Linked DNA regions of Homo sapiens: regions 1, 2 and 4 are each reported to be linked to region 3. The links are microRNA targets in miRTarBase. Many come from high-throughput screens and were not tested one by one. Region 3 holds a microRNA gene; each other region holds the end of a gene's coding sequence.

Region 1 (5,532 bases), not on the chromosome of region 3:
ATTGAGTGGAAAGAAGAGGGTTCAAGGGATTCTCCCACCTCAGCCTCATAGTAGCCACCACGCCCAACTAATTTTTATATTTTCAGTAGAGACGGGGTTTCATCATGTTGGCCAGGCTGGTCTCGAACTCCTGACCTCAGGTGATCCACTGCCTTGGCCTCCCAGAGTGCTGGGATTACTCCCAGAGTACATGAGCCACCGCACCAGGCCAGGGCAAACCCTTTCAAGCAGGAGTTCCAGTATACTGAGAGATGGAAATGCAATTGATGTGAAGTCCTAGCAGTAGCAACCAGCAGAGCTGGCCTTCTTCCAGGCTTGGAGATCCTCTGCCAGATGCTCATCTTACCAGATGCAGGCAGACCTCTTCATTTCAGAAAGGTAGACACTGAGGGACAGAGAGACCAAGGCCAGCAGGAAGTCAGTCACTTTAGTAAAGGGTCCACCAGTCTATCAGTTTCATGAATGTAGAGTCTGTGCCTGCCTTGTACACCCCTCTATTTGCAGTGACCAGAATAAGTAGTAGGACTGTAAATTTATGTTATAATGAATTCATTACCATTATTTAAAGTGGCATGTTCATGCTTTTTTTTTTTTTTTTGAGATGGAGTCTCGCTCTGTCACCCAGGTTGGAGTGCAGTGGTGTGATCTCAGCTCACTGCAACCTCCACCTCCTAGGTTCAAGTGATTCTCTTGCCTCAGCCTCCCGAGTAGCTGAGACTACAGACGTGCCACCACACCCAGCTAATTTTTTGTATTTTTAGTAGAGATGGGATTTTGCCATATTGCCCAGGCTTGTCTCAAACTCCTGGCCTCAGGTGATCCATTGGCCTCGGCCTCTCAAAGTGCTGGGATTACAGGCGTGAGCCACCGTGCCCAGACCCTGTGCTCTTGATTTCCTATCTTTGTACTTGGCTTTTCTCTGGCCCCACTGGTACTATTGTTAGAGGTATCTCATTTGGAGGTGAAAGGAGGGGAAATAAATACAGCAGTCTTGTCTTTTAAATAAATACAGCAGTCTTATGTTACTCTACTCTGAGATCTGTCTGGCCATTGTTGGCAATTTCATCTGAGCATCAGCAATTGCTAGTGACAGCCCTACATCTGGGACTCACTTTCCTGTTTGGTATAAATGTTTCTGGAGATTAGAATAAGGGAAGAGAAGTCGTTTTAGCATTTCCGTATCTCAGTTCCAAAGAGGTTTAAAAGGCACGTGCAAATGACAACCCCACAAAACAAAATCAACTGAGCAAAAATCAATGCTCTGCCCAAGAGGGACCATCTTTAAGAAGCTTTAAGTGAAGTTTACCTTGAAAGTTGTAATTAGAAGCTTCAGGAAGCAAGTGCCTTTATGGCAGAATGACTGATGTTACTCCCAGGATCTCATGGAATTGTAAAATTTTATCTCTGTTCTGTGTAAGTCAACCTAAATCAAACAGAAATATTAGTGTTTGGGTACATCAAAACACCTTTAACTTGTCCTTTCATTTTGGTTTGCCTTTTGACAGGATATAATCACAGATCCATTTAAGCTTGCAGAAGAGTCTGACAGTATGAAGTCCAGATGTGTCCCTGATGCTGCTGGAGGCTGCTGTGGCACAAAGAAAAGCTGCTAAATCTATAGCCAACCAGGGGACCACAGTAGTGGGCAAGAGTGATCTGCATGTTTTTTAACCTGCTTTTCCCCATAGCACAGACCATAAGAAACAACAAATGGGGCCGGGCACAGTGGCTCATGCCTATAATCCCAGCACTTTGGGAGGCCGAGGCAGGCAGATCACCTGAGGTCAGGAGTTTGATACCAGCCTGGCCAACATGGTGAAATCCTGTCTCTACCAAAAATACAAAAAAAATTAGCTGGGCATGGTGGTGCACACCTATAGTCTCAGCTACTCGGGAGGCTGAGGCAGGAGAATTGCTTGAACCCAGGAAGTAGAGGCTGCAGTGAGTAAGCATCACGCCACTGTACTCCAGCCTGGGCAACAGAGCAAGACTCTGTCTCAAAAGCAAAAAAAAAAAAAAAAAAAGAAAGAAAGAAAAAGAAAACAACAAATGGCAGAGAGCCACCATATTCCAAATCACTGAAAAAAATAAATGAATTATTTTTATTTATTTATTTATTTTTTTGAGATGGAGTCTCGGTCTGTTGCCCAGGCTGAAGTGCAGTGGCCCCATCTCAACTCACTGCAAGCTCCACCTCCTGGGTTCACGCCATTCTCCTGCCTCAGACTCCCAAGTAGCTGGGACTACAGGCACCTACCACCATGCCCAGCTAATTTTTTGTATTTTTAGTAGAGACGGGGTTTCACCATGTTAGCCAGGATGGTCTTGATCTCCTGACCTCGTGATCCGCCCGCCTCGGCCTCCCAAAGTGCTGGGATTACAAGCATGAGCCACTGCGCCCGGCCATAAATGAATTATTTTTAAGAGGCATTGATTAAAGATTCACAGCAAATCACTAGTTAAGCAGATTTTTTTTCTATTTCCTACTTCAAAGTTCTGGTGCCACATAGTGGTCAGAAATGGAACAGAGAAGCTGTCTTAAGCCTTGTTCAAGAAGCAGGAAAGGCATCAGAAGAAGTAACAGTTGGCAGAGGGTCTCAGGAAAAACATCTTCCTTCTGATCTTTTGCATAGCACCTTTTGGAATTTTCATCATGTTTGCTTATTAAACAAAGCTCCTACTGCCATCATACTAATCATGCAAAAAGATTGCCAAATCATGTTTGGTAGGAGGACTTTTGAGGTAGCTTTTGAACAAATGTTTTTTTCTTTTTTCTTTTTTTTTGCAATAAAGAAAACAAATTAATCATAAACATCTTTGAATCAAGTATCTCAAGAAAACAAATGAATCATAAGTATCTCACCCTAATGACTGATGACATAGTGATTATTTATTGTAAATTATCCTAACTGGGTCAGGAATAGAGTTCGATCGTTTTTTAAAAAGAGAGCTAAAAGATGTAAAAATGACCAGGCATGGTGGTATGTACCTGTAGTCCCAGCTACTGGAGAGGCTGAGGCAAGAGGATCGCTTGAGCCCAGGAGTTCCAGGCTGCAGTGAGCTATGATTGCACCACTGCACTCCAGCTGGGTGACAGAGCAAGACCCTGTCTCTAAAAAACAATAAATAAATAGGCTGGGTGCGATGGCTCACGCCTGTAATCCCAGCACCTTGGGAGGTCAAGGTGGGTGGATCACTTGAGGTCAGGAGTTCGAGACCAGCCTGACCAACATGGTGAGACCCCCATCTCTACTAAAAATTCAAAACTCAGCCGGGTGTGGTGGCATGTGCATGTAATCCCAGCTACTCGAGAGGTTGAGGCACAAGAATTGCTTGAATCTGGGAGGTGGAGGTTGTAGTGAGCCAAGATCGCACCACTGCACTCCAGCCTGAGTGACAGAGTGAGACCCTGTCAAAGAAAGAAAGAGAGAGAGAGAGGAAGGGAAGGAGAGAGGAAGGGAGGGGAGGGAGGAAAGAGATGTAAAAATGGTAGGTTTTCTTTTTCTTTATAAGGTGTCCTGGTTAAACTTTTAGCAAAATGATAGATTCAGTTTTTCCATAGTTAAAGAAGAATATTAAGAACATTAAAGAAAGGTTCAAGGATGGTAAATAATTTGAATTCCAGCTGTACTTGAAGACTTTATTGGAGGACACAGAAAGGTATAAGTGATGGTCATTATCATCAGGAGCTGGATAATTCAGTTTTTAAATAACAGCCTTCAGGCTGGGCGCGGTGGCTCACACCTGTAATCCCAGCACTTTGGGTGGCCGAGGTGGGTGTATTGCTTGAGTTCAGGAGTTCGAGACCAGCCTGGACAACATGGTGAAACCCTATCGCTACTAAAAATTCAAAAAATTAGCTGGGTGTGGTGGTGCACGCCTGCAATCCCAGCTACTCGAGGCTGAGGCACGAGAATTGCTTGAACCCAGGGGATGGAGGTTCCAGTGACCCGAGATTGCGCCACTGCACTCCAGGCTGGGTAATAGGGCGAGACTCCGTCTCAAAAACAATAAATACAAATAAATAAATAAATAGCCTTCAACCAATCAAGGGTTTTGATAAGATGTCAACCAGTTGCCCTGGGCTCAGTACAAAAACAACCAGGGGCATGGCATGGTCCAGGGGATTTCGGACTAGGGGTTTGAGAATTTTAAGGCATGTAAAACATTGGAATGGATTCCGTAGGATAGACTTCTGTTTTAAGAAAGCTGTTTAATATGGAGAAATTCTCAAATTTTTGAGTAGGTTCAGCTATAGAGCCTAACTTACTATTACAGACAGAGGAAAGAACTAGGTAGTATTTTTTTAAGCCCTATTCACCTCCATGACCTTAATTTTAAACATGCTTGCTTGGTTCTAGGGTGCCGTATCTATCTAGTCGTAACCTACTTTAATGTGAAAATGGTACATTACAGCATTAGCTACAATGGTACAGCTGGAATAAGCATACTTTGCTCTTCATGAGCACAAGATGGCCCTGCTTGGGGGGAATTGATTGAAGGGTGTTCTGTTGGCTGGGTGTGGTGGCTCATGCCTGTAATCCCAGTACTTTGGGAGGCTGAGGCGAGTGGATCACTTGAGGCCAGGAGTTCAAGACCAGCCTGGCCAACATGGCAAAACTCTGTCTCTACTAAAAATACAAAAATTAGACAGGCATGGTGGCCAAGGCCTATAATCTCAGCTACTCAGGTGGCTGAGGCACAAGACTCGGCTGAGCCTGGGAAGTGGAGGTTGCAGTGAGCCTGGGAAGTGGAGGTTGCAGTGAGCCGAGATCACACCACTGCACTCCAACTTGGGTGGCAGAGCGAGACTCTGTCTCAGAAAAAAAAAAGGGGGGGGGTGTTTTGTTTATTTGGTTTATTGGGCTTTTTGGCATTTACAAGGAGAGGGTATTAGCTTTTTACTTGTCCTTCTGAACTCTCAGTTCCCCAAAAAGATGTTGAGTAATGGGATTGGGCTGGGCAACTTAGCAAGACCCCATCTCTAAAAAATAAAAATTTTATATTTTTTTATTTTTATTTTTTTTCAAGACGGAGTCTTGCTCTGTCGCTCAGGCTGGAGTGCAGTGGCATGATCTTGGCTCACTGCAACCTCCGCCTCCCAGGTTCAAGTGATTCTCCTGCCTCAGCCTCCCGAGTAGCTGAGATTACAGGCACACACCACCACACCTGGCTAATTTTTGTATTTTTAGTAGAGACGAGGTTTCACCATGTTAGCCAGGGTGGTCTCAAACTCCTGACCTCATGATCCACCTGCCTTGGCCTCCCAAAGTTCTGGGATTACAGGTGTGAGCCACTGTGCCCAGCCTAAAAAAAAAAAATTAAAAAAAAAAAAAAAGAATCATGGAAGGCTGCAGAAACTTTTCAGCTTACCAACTCAGGGAGGCCCAGCAGTAGCCTCAACAGGCCCCCACCCCCACATCCAGCCATGCATAGCTGAAAAGGGCATGGCTTTGTGCCAAGACAGCCCCAGAGCCTGCTCCTCCTATTTATTCTTGGCCTTTACTTGGATGGCTCCAGGGAAGCAGCTGA
Region 2 (3,000 bases), not on the chromosome of region 3:
GGGGCTTCACCATGTTGGCCGAGCTGGTCTCGAATTCCTGACCTCAGGTGATCTACCTGCCTTGGCCTCCCAAAATGCTGGGATTACAGGTATGAACCACTGTGCCTGGCTCATTTTTTCTTTTTCATTGCAGTTTTAAAAATATTGATATTGATCCTCAATCCATTATATGTAATTATAAATACATATGTGAATATAGAAATACATATTTTTGCTAAATGATTTGAGAATGAGTTGCAGACATAATACATCACTTATAAATATTTCATTATGAATCTCCTAAGAACAGCATTCTCCTACATAATCACAAATTTATCACGCTCGGGGAATTTAACACTTACAAAATACTTCTGTCTAATACATAGTTAATAATGTTTATAATTGTTTATATTTCCTAAATCCAGGACCCAGTCAAGGTTTATATAGTGCATTTAGCTCTCATGTCTCTATTCTCCTTTGGTGTAGAATAGTTCCTCCATGTTTTGTGTTTTTTTTCTTGTGATATTAGTATTTTCAATGAGTTGAACAGCTGCTTTGCAGAGTTTCTCCCTAAATTTAGATTTGTCTGATAATTTTCTCATCAGTAAATTTAGGACAAGCATTTCTGACAGGACTAGTACACGGGTGGGGCTGTTTTTTTTCAGTACCTCATATTAGGTTTTATTTATTTTTTTCAGACGGAGTCTTGCTCTGTCGCCCAGGCTGGAGTGCAATGGTGTGATCTCAGCTCACTGCAACCTCTGCCTCCTGGGTGGGTTCAAGCAATTCTCCTGACTCCCAAGTAGCTGGGACTACAGGTGACACCACCACGCCAGACTAATTTTTGCATTTTTAGTAGAAACGAGATTTCACCATATTGATCAGGCTGGTCTCGAACTCCTGACCTCAGGTGATCCACCCGCCTTGGCCTCCCAAAGTGTTGGGATTACCGGCATGAGCCACCCACGCCCAGCCTCAGTACTTCATGAGGTTTTAGATGTTCATTGCCTGTTGTTGGTTTCCATATAAATATTAGAATTAACTGCAAAGTCATACAAGAAACCTTGCCAAGATTTTGATTGGAATTGATTTCTATCTAGAGATTACTTGCATCTCTTTATTAGACTTATTCCTAGGAGACGGACATGGTGGCCCACACCTGGAATCCCAGCTACTTAGGAGGCTGAGGCAGGATTACTTGAACCCAGGAGGTTAAGGCTGGAGTGAGCTATGATCCATTACTGCATTCCAGCCTTGGTGACAGAGGGAAAAAATAAATAAATAAATAAATATTTAAATCAATTTATTTCTAAGTACCTTATATTTTCTGTGACATATAAATCTTTTGTATTTAAAGGTTTGTTTTGTTTTTATGGTAAATGGTACCTTTGTAAAAATTACACTTTCTAGCTATTTGTGGCTAGAGATTACTTATGATTTATATTATTTCCAGTAGTTCCTTTTTTATAAACTATATTTTATTTATTTATTTATTTATTTATTTTTGAGACGGAGTTTCACTCTGTCGCTCAGGCTGGAGTGCAGTGGCGCGATCTCAGCTCACTGCAAGCTCCGCCTCCCGGGTTCATGCCACTCTCCTGCCTCAGCCTCCCGAGTAGCTGGACTACAGGCGCCCGCCACCACAACTGGCTAATTTTTTTGTATTTTTAGTAGAGACAGGGTTTCACCGTGTTAGCCAGGATGGTCTCGATCTCCTGATCCACCTGCCTCGGCCTCCCAAAGTGCTGGGATTACAGGTGTGAGCCACCGCCCCTGGCCTAAATTTTATTTATATTATTTGAAACTTAAGACAGATAATGACATACAGTGAAAAGTCCTCCTCTAACCCCTAACCCTGGCCATCTGATTCTTTCCATCTGATTCTTTCCAGAGGTAATCAGTGTAACCAGTTTTTTGCATACTCTCCCAGAACTATTTTATATAGATACAAGTAAATCGTGTACTTATATTTTATATATGTTAGCATTAAATAAATGGCAGGCCTAGTAACAGAAATAAAAGTCACATGGAAGGACTATTGTAGGAAGGACAGTTTGGTTTCATAATCAGATGTTTGTAATGATTATAATGTAATAACTTCACAAACACTCAGGAAAAAGCAAATTATTTAATGGAAAATTCCAAAATACATGAGAGCCATTTCCATTCAATATACTTTGTTACAACAATTCCATGTACTTCCAAAATCAGATGCTTTGTAGACTAGCTTGGCAACATGGTGAAGCCCTGTCTCTACAAAAAATCAGCTGGGCATGGTGGCATGTGCCTGTAGTTTCAGCCACCTGGGAGGATGAGGTTGGGGGGTCACCTAAGCCTGAGAAGTCAAGGCTGCAGTGAGCCATGATCGTGCCACTGCACTCCAGCCTGGGCGACAGAGCAAGACCCTGTCTCAAAAAACAAAACCCAGCAAGACCCCAGTCTTTTAACTTGTGAAGCCCCTTTACTCGTCTTTCAGCGCATACAGCACATCATCCTGGCTGACGTTGAGCCGCACCCGAAGGAGCAGATCGTTCCTGCTGGGCTCCACAAGCAGGAGGCGACAGGAGCCCAGGTGAGAACACACGGCCATGGTCTCTGACATGGTGGGGTACGGCAGTCCCTCCATTCTGCACAGTGCCACATGTTGACTATATATCTAGACACAAATAGCAAGGCAAAGGTTAAGAGGAAATACAATCCTGGGGCTTTTTCTGTTCCTTTCTTTCTTCATTTGGGAAAATCAGACACATGGCCCCCAGGATATCAAACACTCCAGAAGGCATCAGTTGGTGCCCCAGTGGTACACAAAATGCAGAGGCAGAATGGAATGCTAGCCTTGGAATCAGAAAACAGCAGGCCCGAATCCTGGTGCTACCATTTACCTAAATATGTAGACCTGGCCAAGTTACTGCACTCTTTTGAGCTTCAATTTTATCTATAAAATACACTGTACATCCCTTGTGAGTTAATGGATATAAAATGACTAGTAACTCTCACTGGTGATACAAATAGTCTTGTCTC
Region 3 (5,248 bases):
GTGCATGACGTGAGTGCGGGGGGGCGGGGGCGGGTCAGGGCGGGCTGGTGCTGTGTCCACTGCAATGCCTCTCCTCTCCCCAGATAGCAGAAAAGCTCATCAAGGCCTTTGCTGAGCAGATATTTTACACCGGCTTCATCCACTCGGACCCACATCCTGGCAACGGTAGGAATTTACCCCAGGGGTGGGGGTCTCAGGGTGGGCGCAGCGCGACCTAAGAGGCTGTATCCCTAGTTCTGGTGCGGAAAGGCCCGGACGGGAAAGCGGAGCTGGTGCTGCTGGACCACGGGCTCTACCAGTTCCTGGAGGAGAAGTGAGCGCGGGTGGGTGGGCGTGGGGCAGGGCAAGCCTCTCCTGCCGCAGGGAGCTCATGGCTGCGGGCCCATCCACACCCAGGGACCGCGCAGCCCTCTGCCAGCTGTGGCGGGCCATCATCCTGCGGGACGACGCCGCCATGAGGGCGCACGCAGCCGCACTGGGGGTGCAAGGTGAGGGCGTGCGGGGATGGCTGGGGCACCACAGAAGGGAGTCGGGCGGCGCGGAACCCACTCAGAGCCCCCTCCCTCCCTCCCTCCCTCCCTCCCCAGACTACCTCCTGTTCGCCGAGATGCTCATGCAGCGCCCCGTGCGCCTGGGGCAGCTGTGGGGCTCGCACCTACTGAGCCGCGAAGAGGCGGCCTACATGGTGGACATGGCCCGCGAGCGCTTCGAGGCCGTCATGGCGGTGCTCAGGGAGCTGCCGCGGCCCATGCTGCTGGTGCTGCGCAACATCAACACCGTGCGCGCTATCAACGTGGCCCTCGGCGCCCCCGTGGACCGCTACTTCCTTATGGCTAAAAGGTCGGTGGCCCGAGGAGGCGCCCGGGCCGTGGTGGGGCTGGTGTGGGGCTGACGCGGCGCTAACGCGGGTGTGTGCAGGGCTGTCCGGGGCTGGAGCCGCCTGGCGGGCGCCACGTATCGGGGTGTCTACGGCACCAGCCTCCTGCGCCACGCCAAGGTCGTCTGGGAGATGCTCAAGTTTGAAGTGGCGCTCAGGTGAGTGGCCGCGGGGCAGGTGGGTGGCGGGGGCCTGCTCCCCACCCACCTGTGACCTGTGACCTGACCCACGCAGGCTGGAGACCTTGGCCATGCGGCTGACCGCCCTCCTGGCTCGTGCTCTGGTCCACCTGAGCCTCGTGCCCCCAGCGGAGGAGCTCTACCAGTACCTGGAGACCTAGGGTGCAGCCGCCCAGGGCCGGCGGGGCCCTTTTCACCTTGGGCTGACGGAGGTGGCGGGGCTAGAGGTGTAGACACCCCGAGCCCCGTGGGCACTCGCACTGGGGGGCTGTGACAGCAGCTGGGCCAGGAGGCCGTGTAATGACCACACACTCCTCTCAAGCAAAAAATGTTTTTCCTTGTGTTTTGTACAAAAAGGGGGTGGGAGGTAGTTCCGTGTGCTGGTGGTGACGGCATCCACGGGGCTAGAAGTGGGCGGTGACGCGGTCCGTCTCCAGCAAGTCGTCCAGGATCTGCAGGGGATGGAAGGGTGGGTGGGTGGGTGGGTGGGGATGCACACGGAGGGGCGGGGCGCGCGGGGGGCGGGGCGCGCACTCACTATGTCTGGTGTGGTGCCGATCTTCTTGGCTAGCTCGCTGCGCTCCATGGTGCTCAGGTACAGGTAGCGGTTGAGCAGCTCCCCATCCAGCACGTTGCGCACGGCATTCTGGAGGGTGCGGCGGTCCACGTGCAGCATCCTGGGGCGTACAGGCACAGGTGTCAGGGCAGGCTGGGGTGGAGGGGGTGCTGCACGGGGGCGGGGCCGGGGCTCACCGGAAGGCGCGGGGGTTGAGGCCGGCGTGGTGTGGCAGCATGGTGGTCAGCGCGTTCTGCAGCATCAGCAGCCGCCGGTAGGTCTTCTCCTGCATGGGCAGCAGCAGCCCGATGCCGCCGTCCAGGGTGGCTGGCAGGGGTAGGGTGAGGGTTTTGGTGTGAGCCAGGCCAACCCTAGGGCCCCCCACCCAGACACACCTGCTCCCCCACACTCACCAAACCACGTGATGTGCTTATTCTCCCACACGACCGACTTTTTGCTGAGCCCTTCAGTGGCCCCCCGGCACGGGGTCCTCCAGAACGTGTTCACGTGGGCACCCACGTGGAAGTCTGCCCGACGCAGCAGGCGCATGCCCCCGAAACTCTCCTTGGCTAGACCAGAAAGGCCTAGGGGTCACTGCTAGCCCAGCCCCGGCCCAGGCAGAGGGGGTGGAGGAAGCACTCACCTTCGGGCAGGTACATGTACACCATGAGGTTGCGGTCGCGGTCAGACACTGGGGAGCAGAGGCCCAGGGTCAGCCCCGGCCACCCCCAGAGCCTCAGCTCCCCAGGGCCCTGCCCACATACCCAGAAAACCCAGCTGGGCATTGTCCACCATGAAGTCCACGCTGTACACCTCCAGGGGCTTGGCATCCTGGGGGCGGGAAGGGGGCGTCAGAGGTGCCTTGGGCGGGTACCCACCCAGACACGAGCACCGCCGCCACAGGTGTACCCGCGACACCAGGCTCAGCGTCTTGCTTTCCTCCTGGTAGCGCAGCAGCGAAATGCTCTTCATGACGTCGGCTGCCAGGATGAAGTTCTTGACGCTGATCATCTGGTGTATGTAGAGCTGCGTGTCGATGAAGGCCATGCCCGTCAGCTCGCTGGCCCGCAGGCTCCACAGGAAAATCTGGGGGCGAGGGCGAGGGTGAGCGGGCGCGGACGGGGAGCCGGGTGAGGGTGAGCCGGGGGACACACGCCGGGTGGGACTGGCACACCTTCTGGCCGATGGCCGACACCAGGTGGCCATTGCAGTGGCACAGGGCGGTCACGGGCCCCTTCTGCTCCTTCTCGTAAAGGACTTTGAACTTGTTCTTGGTCAAGGGCTGGCCAGGCTCGGGCACCACCTCAATCACATCCATGATCAAGATCTGGAGGGCATGGGTATGGCTGTGGGATGGCTGTGGGGATGGCAGAGGGGCTGCCAGTTCCCGCCCCCGCTCACTGGCCCCTTACCCGCCCTCGGCACGTGACCTCCTCCCCCTGCATGAGGCAGGTCCCGGCGGCCACGTAGCCTTTGAGGCCCGACACGGTCTCCTCACTGCGCAGAGACACTGTCTTCATGCAGGTCACATGCTCCCACTCCTGCAGCTCGATCCTGTGGGGGCCAGGGGCCTCAGGATGCTGCCTGGAGGCCTTGGGCAGACCCCACCCCCGCCGGCCCAGCCTCACCTGGCATTGGGAATAGCCTCCCAGCTGACCGGGGAGATGAGCTGGATGGAGAAGGCCTCCTGCTGGGGGTGGATGTACCGCTCATCTGTGGGGACCAAGGGTGACAGTCAGAGTAGGGCTTCCCCAAGATGCGGCTGAGGATGGGAGTATGGTGTGGGCGTCACCACCTCTCTCGATGGTCTCAAACTCCTTCTCCTCGCCAGTCATGCGTGGGATGCGGGCACACGGCGTGTTGGTGCTGGTGGCCACAGCATACACCTGTGGGTTAGTGAGGGTCACACACCAGTGGCCCGGCCAGGCCCAGAAGGTCCCTGGTGGGGTGGGGGTGGGGGCAGACCTTAGACTCCACGTGGTAAGCCACATAGTGGGCCGTGCAGCGCAGCGGGATCTTCCTGACAGGCCATGGGGCATCATAGGACAGGTAGGCAGGCAGGACACTGATCCTCAGCTCGCCCTGGGGTGGGGGCACAGGGGTCAGGGGATCCAGGGCTAGCCAAGGGCAGGGGCAGGCAGGCCCAGGCCGCCAAGAGCCCTGGGATGTTGCCCTCAGCTCTGTGGGAGCAGGGGTGGGTGAGGGGCAGCTGTGTCCTGGCGAGGTCCTGGAAGGGGCTGCCACTCAGCCTCTGGGGCTCCTCCTGTCCATTTTCCCACGCTCAGCTGGGGCTAGGGGTGCTGGCCACAGGGGATGGGAAAGCTAGGCCAGGAGGGCACTGGAGGCTGCAAAGGGCAGCCCACAGACTGCCATGCTGGGGACTGAAAACCAGGCAGAGGGAGCCAGGGCTGCCCTCTTTCATGGACAGTCCTGAGTCCTCAGGCACCCAGGAAGCACTCACCGCATCCCAGGCAGGGTCTCAAGTGACCTGGTGGTGTGGTGGCTTAAATAGGGAACCAGGATGAGAAAGCCTGTGTGCCCTCCCAAAGTCACAGAGCAGCCAAGGGGCAGAGCTAGCACTCACGTCAGCTCTCCTGAGAAGTGTGGAGGCCAGGCCCTGCGAGGGCTTGCCCGGCGAGCCGGCAGAGCAGTGGTGGGGACCCCAGGGGCTGCAGCCCCAGCTCCCAACCACCCCTTTCCAGACCTTTGGAGCAACCAAGTCACAGGTTCCACCTCCTCGACCTCAACCCCATCGCCCTCTGGACACTCCTTCCTGGTCCTCAGGGTGGAGCCAATGGTCCCTTCTCCTGTCCCCTCCCCCTCAGCCCCCAGCTGGGGCAGCATCAGCCAGTGCTGCTGGGAACCGGCCGGGCCCCACCTGTCTGTTGAAGTACAGGAAGCCGCGGGGACAGTTGACATTGTGGAATGGAGCGAAAGAGTCGACCGGGCCGTCGATGGCCATGGGGTGTAGCCGCAGAGCCCCTCGGCCGGTCACCAAGAGCCAGTGAGGGGAGGGGCCGCAGATGAAGACCTGGGGGCAGGCACCGTGAGGATGCTGTGGATGAGGATGCTGCGGATGAGGCCGCGTCTCCCTTCTACCACAGACCCCTGCAAAGGCGCTGGCCTACCCCTGAGTAGCCATAAATATCCTCGAAGTAGCGGAAACGCGCCACGCGGCCCCGGGCCCCAGCCCCCTCCTCTGCGCCGCCACCTTCTGCTTTCTTCTTGGATGGCTTTGGCTTCTTCTCACGGAAGTTGATGTTGTGAGGGACCTGGGGGGGAACCATGCAGGTCCTCCAGGGGCTGCCGGTCTGAAACCCACACCTTGTACCACACCCACCCCACGCCCCAGCAGTCCAGCCACTGGCACCTTCTTAAAGCGGACTTTGAGATTGCCCTGGCCGAGCTGAGAGTCGTGGGGGAAGGCCTCGTAGATAAGCAGCTCTTGGTCCACATGCACCTGGCAGGATGAGGGGAGCCATGGGGGAACGGGCAGGGCCATGGAGAACATGGGATGGGCCATGGGAAGAGGTGGGCTGTGGGTAAGGGGCGGGGCTGAGATGGGGTGGAGCCATGTATGGGAAGGGGCGGGGCTGTGAGGGAGATGGGGTGGAGCCACGGGAAGGGGCGGGGCCG
Region 4 (5,532 bases), not on the chromosome of region 3:
AAGCAACAGACCAGCTGGGTGGCCTCCAATTCAATTCCAACTCTGTCTACCGGGAGATAGTGTCGGATCGCACAGGTTGAGGCTCAGCCCCCAAGACTGCATCTCCCTCCCCTCAGATCCCAGTCAAAAGTCCAGGCCTCCAGAACTTCTGCCTGACCAGCTTCAAGTTGGGGTTCCCACGATCCCCTCTTTCGGTTTGATTAATTTGCTGGAGCAGCTCACAGAACTCAAAGAAACACTTACGTTTAGTGGCTTATTATAAAGGATACTACAAAGGATAAAGGTGAAAAGATGTGCACGGGGGAGGGTGCGGAGTGTGCACACCCTCCCTAGGTGCACCACCGGGGAGGAACCTGCACATGGTCAGCTACCCAGAGCTCCAAGAAGCCAGTCCTCTTGGGTTTTTAATGGAAGCTTCATGACATCAGCATTCCTTACACCAGGGTATAGAGTGAGGAGGAGGGTCTCTCTGGGGAGGGTCTTATAACCCACAATCTGAAAGTGAGGGTGAACAGTAGAGCCCTGCCTTGGGGCAAGGGAGAGGAGGGCAGAATGTCAAGAGGTTGTTTCCTGCGGCCTGCTCCTGAGGCCTGACACACTCAACATTAGAACAAAAGACTGAACAAGGGCTATGAGGGTTATGAGCCAGGAGCCTGGATGAAAACCAATGTATATATAACACCACGGTACCGATGTGGAACTCTGATATGAACCAATTTTCAAAGTGTAGAATAGTATGTTAACATGCTATTGTCTGTATTTTTAAAAAATACACATACCAATATATTTGATTACATAAGCATGGGGTACCTGGAGGGCATCAAAGGCAGCTGGTAACAAGTCATTGCCTGAGTAGATGTGAAGGACTAGAGGACAGAGTAGGAGTGAGATTTACTTTTCATTTTATATCCTTCTTATTATTTTTTGCCCCTTTAGCAATTTGGGTGAGCTTTGTGTATACATAGGGTTTTTTTTATTTTTATTTTTTTTTGGAGACGGAGTCTCACTCTGTCACCCAAGCTGGAGTGCAATGGCGCAATCTTGGCTCATTGCGACCTCAGCCTCCCAGGTTCGAGCAATTCTCCTGCCTCAGGCTCCCAAATAGCTGGGATTACAAGTGCACGCCACCACACCCAGCTAATTTTTGTATTTTTAGTAGAGACAGTGTTTTGCCACATTGGCCAGGCTGGTCTCGAACTCCTGACCTCAGGTGATCCAACCACCTTAGCCTCCCAAAGTATTGGAACTACAGGCGTGAGCCACTGCACCCAGCCAATAGGGTTCCTAATTGTTTGTAGTTTTGTTTTGTTTTGTAGAGATGGGGTTTCACCATGTTGCTCAGGCTGGTCTCGAACTCCTGGGCTCAAGCAATCCGCCTGCCTCAGCCTCCCAAAGTGCTGGGATTACAGGCATGAGCCACCACACCCGGCACCCTCTTGTCTGTATTTTTGATGCGGTTTCCCCTCCAGTCTTCATTTCCCTGTTTGCTGACTTCTTACTTCTTAGAATCCTCCTGGATTCTAGTGGATTCTAGTGAGCCCCACAGCTCTGAGTTCCTGATTGGACCTGCCTTCTGAGATGCACAGGCTGCAGGAGGGGCAGGGCCTGGCCTTGGCTTACCCCGACACTCTCACCACCACCCCACCCATCTGCAGCCCTAGGCCAGGAATACTGAAAGGGCAGCCTGGGTAGGACTCCTAGTTGGCCACAGAGTGGGGGGTAGCCCCCAGTGTTTGCTCAGCAGGATGGATCAAGAATCAGAACTAGCTTGCATGTACCCCACATCTTGTGACCCTTAGGCATACCACCCAGATAGGTGCCAAGGATTCCTCTTCTGGAAGGGAGGTAGAGGCTAATCTAGCAATGTCTAGATAGCATGTATTGTTAAAATGTATCAAAGTGTAGCCAGGCGTGGTGGCCCTGTAGTCCCAGCTACTCAGGAGGCTGAGGCAGGATGTCTTGAGCCTGGGAGGCAGAGGTTGCAGTGAGCTGAGATCACCCCACTGTACTCAATAATAAATAAATAATAAATAATATAAAATGCATCAAAGTGAAGAGGGGTACTTGGGGATTTCCAGGTCTAATCCCTTTATTTTACAGAAAGAAACAGAGACTCAAAGCAAAGTAATTCATAAGTGGTGAAGCTGGGGCTAAATCCAAGTCTCCTGCCACTGCGCACTTCAGGGTTAGAGCAGTGCTAGGAGTCCCACCAGGGCCTGGGTGAGAGATTCATTCTTAAAACTGGGCGTGAAGTCTCAGTCACTGAGAATGCTTGGTGCCAGCTCCCATCTCTAAGGACTGCTTTGAGGGAAGGAGTTGAATCCGGCCCCTTCCCCAAACCAGGGTAATGTATCATAGAGCAGAGAGCATACATAATCTTGGGAAGAGGGATAGAAGTGACAAAGATGGGCCAGGCGCAGTGGCTCACGCCTGTAATCCCAACACTTTGAGAGGTCGAGATATGCAGATCGCTTGAGCCCAGGAGTTCGAGACCAGCCTGGGCAACATGGTAAAACCCCGTCTCCACAAAAAATAAAAGATAAAAATTAGCTAGGCATGATGGCACATGTAGGTAGTCCCAACTACTCAGGGGCTGAGGCAGGAGGATCCCTTGAGCCCGGGAGGTTGAGGCTGTAGAAAGCCAAGATCATATCACTGCACTCTATTCTGGGTGACAGAGCAAGACCCTGTCTCAAAAAAAAAAAGGAAGTGACAAAGATACAACCACTTAGCTAGGTGTGCCTGTGGTCCCAGCTACTCAGGAGGCTGAAGTGAGAGGGTCTCTTCAGCCTGGGAATTCAAGGCTGCACTGAGGCATGATCGTGCCGCTGCACTCCAGCCTGGGCAACAGAACCAGACTCTGTCTCAAAAAAAGAAAAAAAAAGATGGAATGACTAACTCTTCTTGGACACTAAAGTTGAGCAGAAGGAACCCCTGGGCAGGAGGGGAAGTGTCACCAAGGGTCCTTCTTCCCAGGCCGCAATAGCCTGGCTTGGAAAGTCAGGCCCTTTGCTTTGTAGCAGGAGGAAGGTGATTCTTGGGACCCAAAACATGCCAGAGAACCTGGCGCCGAGTGTCCCAAGGAGGCTTCGCTTTTGGAACAGGCTTGGTCCTGTCCAGGTAGGCACTTCCTCATGAGTAACCCCTTCCAGCTCTCACAGTGGAGCCACATGCCTGCTGCCCGCTGACGACTTCTTCCCTTGCCCGACCTGTCTGAGCGGGTGGGTGTGAGCAGGTCATATTTACCAGGCCCTGCCCCAGGAGATGGGGAGATAGCACTGACTTCCTCTCTTCTCTTACCCAATCTTCCTCCCACGCCACGCCCAAACACGGCACTCCCCCAAATAGGTCTGTCACGAGCCACCTTGGAATTGTGAGGAGACTGCTGGGAGGAAGGGGCGGCCACCTTCCCCAGCCAGCAGAGAAGGGTCTGACTGCAACACAGATGGCTTCATCGTCACATTGAAAATAACCAAATATGAAAATGTGTTTTATTTCTCAGTACAAAGCCAGATACTGTAAGGCTATGAAAAACTGACTAGCCAGAGGCCAGAAAGGACAAAAAGAAGACTATCTCTGGCCTGGTGCCCTGTGATCTGGCGTGGTGTCACAGGAGGTCTGGGGACAGCAGCAAAGACCTGGACCGGTGGAGGTGGATGAGGGAAGCGATCTGCCAGCCCTTCCAGCCTCCCGCGGCTGGGGCCTGAGGATCCTGCCTGCCTTTGGGGGCCACTGGTTGCCTGGCCTGGCTGGTTCCAGGAATGAACTGGGAGAGGACAGGAGGTGCAGGGAGGGGGCGGGGGTGGGAGGCGTGACCCTTTTTGCACGGGAAGCTCTGTTTTCATTCCGTGCCACAGGTGAGTGTGCAGGGCTAGAGTTGAGAATGAAACTAGGGTGCTGTTGCCCCCAAAGGTACCTTCAGTCCCTCTACCACATCCCAGTTAGAAAGTCTTGAGCCCTTGGACAGGCAGACATGGGCCTGGGACTTAAGGCTGTAGGAGGTGAGGCTGTAGTGACAGGGGTGGGAGGTGAGGCCGTAGTGACAGGGGTGGGAGGTGAGGCTGTAGTGACGGGTATGGGGCGGAGCTGAGAGGAATGTGTGCGGCAACAGACGTGAGGGTGTTTCTCCAAGGAGTTGTGGATCCTCTTCAGTGTCAGGGGAGCGTGGGCATGTGTGAGGGCTCAGGCCTCGCCCTCCTCTCCACTGTCATGCACGCTGGCCTGTCTCACCACCTTCCGGAACCTGGGCGTAGAGGAAATGCAGGGCTCTCCCTGCCCCTGCCCCTGCCCCTGCTCCTGCTCCTGGAAGGCCTGGGTCCGGTTGGCCACCACGGCACTGCCCTGGAGGGTAACCACTGACTGGCGGGACTTCAGGGCAGGCTGAGGCCCCCTGTCCACCTGCTGGCCTCCCTTGGTCCTTGCAAGCTGTGGGAAGGGCTGCAGAGGCTCTTCATGTGAAGACTCGTGGGAAGAGAAGACCTGGACAGGTGTGAGGATACGGAAGCCATGGGAGGCCTTTCTGGGGCAGGGGTGCCCAAGCACAGAGCCGGGAAGATCTGGGGCAGGGGTGCCAAGCACAGAGCCAGGAGGAGGCGAGGGCCGGAATGTTTGTGGCACGCACGCCAAAAGCCAAGCTGTCCACAGCCACGCTTCCTCGGGAGGGAGGACAACACCCCAGCCCTGCTGCCCCGCTCCTTGAACCCTACCTGCTTGTAGCTTCCTTCTGGCCCCCAGAAGCCCTCCTCAGCTCCCTGGAGACCCAGGCCTCCCTGCCCTCCTCCCCTCCTATGCTTTCTCTGCCTTTGCGTAGGCAGCCGGCAGGTGAAACCCGTGCCGGCACCAGCCCCTGAGCTGGGCTGGGTGGATGCGTGCGTCCGGTGCTGGGTGAGGACCTCTTGCCTTTAGCAACGCCCACACCCGCCCATCAACCCACCACGCCTCCCTATCCTTCCCCACCCACACCTCCTCCAGGAAGCCTCTCCCAAATGTTCCTGCCCTCAGTGGATGCTCCTTCCTCCAAGTCAGCCATTTGGCCTTGAGTCCCAGACAGGGCCTGGCTCCCAGGCTTAGGCTTGTGCCCGCAGCACTGAGCATCAAGGGTGCTGACTTAGGCAGGACTTGGGCGGCGTGAGTGCGCAGACTCCTCCCCACCCCATCCTTTGAGGTGCTGCTCCTCAGACCAGGGAGGGGCTTCAGAGATTAATTTAGCCTCCCCACCATGGGGTTAGAGATCGCCCCCAGGGCCTGCAGGGGCCTGTGGAGCTCATGGCCTGGGGAGGCAGCCCTGCCCCTGAGACAGCTAGTCCTGTGGTCAGGCTGGAACCTGCCCGCGATCGAGGCTGGGGCTGGCTCACCCAGGAGCCTTGGAAACAGGCACTGCTTCCTGCCCTGCCCCCGTGACCCCTCTCCAGCCTGTGCCTACAGTGCCTCCGCCTGCCCTCACTGGATCTCAGCTGCTCTCAGGGGCCCAGGACGTGGCTGGTCCCCATCTTCAGGGGTATTCATGGGACAGGCTGGAGACGCCGGGTGCTA

Evidence for each region. Region 3 holds the annotated microRNA hsa-miR-939-3p (CCCUGGGCCUCUGCUCCCCAG, at 2,304-2,324, opposite strand). A microRNA usually pairs through its seed, bases 2 to 8, with sites in the 3' UTR of a target mRNA and lowers its output. Matches are read on the target gene's strand: a 7mer-m8 pairs with bases 2 to 8, a 7mer-A1 pairs with bases 2 to 7 and ends in A, and an 8mer does both.
Region 1: the mRNA of AS3MT is a reported target of hsa-miR-939-3p. Seed matches in the 3' UTR shown: 7mer-A1 at 1,922-1,928 and 7mer-m8 at 2,146-2,152.
Region 2: miRTarBase lists ORC1 as a target of hsa-miR-939-3p. Seed matches in the 3' UTR shown: 7mer-m8 at 2,364-2,370.
Region 4: the mRNA of SSH3 is a reported target of hsa-miR-939-3p. The part of its 3' UTR that is shown has no 7-base or 8-base seed match.

The regions. Positions count from the first base shown.
Region 1 is chr10:102,899,088-102,904,619 of GRCh38, forward strand. AS3MT (arsenite methyltransferase) reads left to right here. Exons shown (of 11, transcript NM_020682.4): 11 at 1,506-2,812. The coding sequence ends at 1,613. BORCS7-ASMT (BORCS7-ASMT readthrough (NMD candidate)) reads left to right here. Exons shown (of 15, transcript NR_037644.1): 15 at 1,506-2,812. It overlaps LOC107984265 (a long non-coding RNA gene), which reads right to left. Exons shown (of 3, transcript NR_160733.1): 2 at 1,307-1,423; 3 at 1-385. Among named protein-coding and RNA genes, the nearest start is that of CNNM2, 16 kb to the right of the region's middle.
Region 2 is chr1:52,370,741-52,373,740 of GRCh38, forward strand. It overlaps ORC1 (origin recognition complex subunit 1), which reads right to left. Exons shown (of 17, transcript NM_004153.4): 17 at 2,089-2,635. The coding sequence ends at 2,441. Among named protein-coding and RNA genes, the nearest start is that of CC2D1B, 6.0 kb to the left of the region's middle.
Region 3 is chr8:144,391,858-144,397,105 of GRCh38, forward strand. It overlaps MIR939 (microRNA 939), which reads right to left and starts at 2,373; the gene lies at 2,292-2,373. ADCK5 (aarF domain containing kinase 5) reads left to right here. Exons shown (of 15, transcript NM_174922.5): 9 at 1-9; 10 at 84-165; 11 at 235-313; 12 at 397-488; 13 at 588-840; 14 at 919-1,035; 15 at 1,112-1,385. The coding sequence ends at 1,217. CPSF1 (cleavage and polyadenylation specific factor 1) reads right to left here. Exons shown (of 38, transcript NM_013291.3): 24 at 4,983-5,072; 25 at 4,741-4,884; 26 at 4,491-4,643; 27 at 3,578-3,694; 28 at 3,408-3,498; 29 at 3,241-3,325; 30 at 3,025-3,166; 31 at 2,787-2,939; 32 at 2,522-2,698; 33 at 2,377-2,443; 34 at 2,256-2,303; 35 at 2,026-2,181; 36 at 1,810-1,939; 37 at 1,595-1,733; 1 more. The coding sequence ends at 1,461. RefSeq lists silencers at 2,324-2,485, 3,838-4,051.
Region 4 is chr11:67,310,538-67,316,069 of GRCh38, reverse strand. It overlaps SSH3 (slingshot protein phosphatase 3), which reads right to left. Exons shown (of 14, transcript NM_017857.4): 14 at 3,478-4,479. The coding sequence ends at 4,183. Among named protein-coding and RNA genes, the nearest start is that of SSH3, 9.8 kb to the right of the region's middle.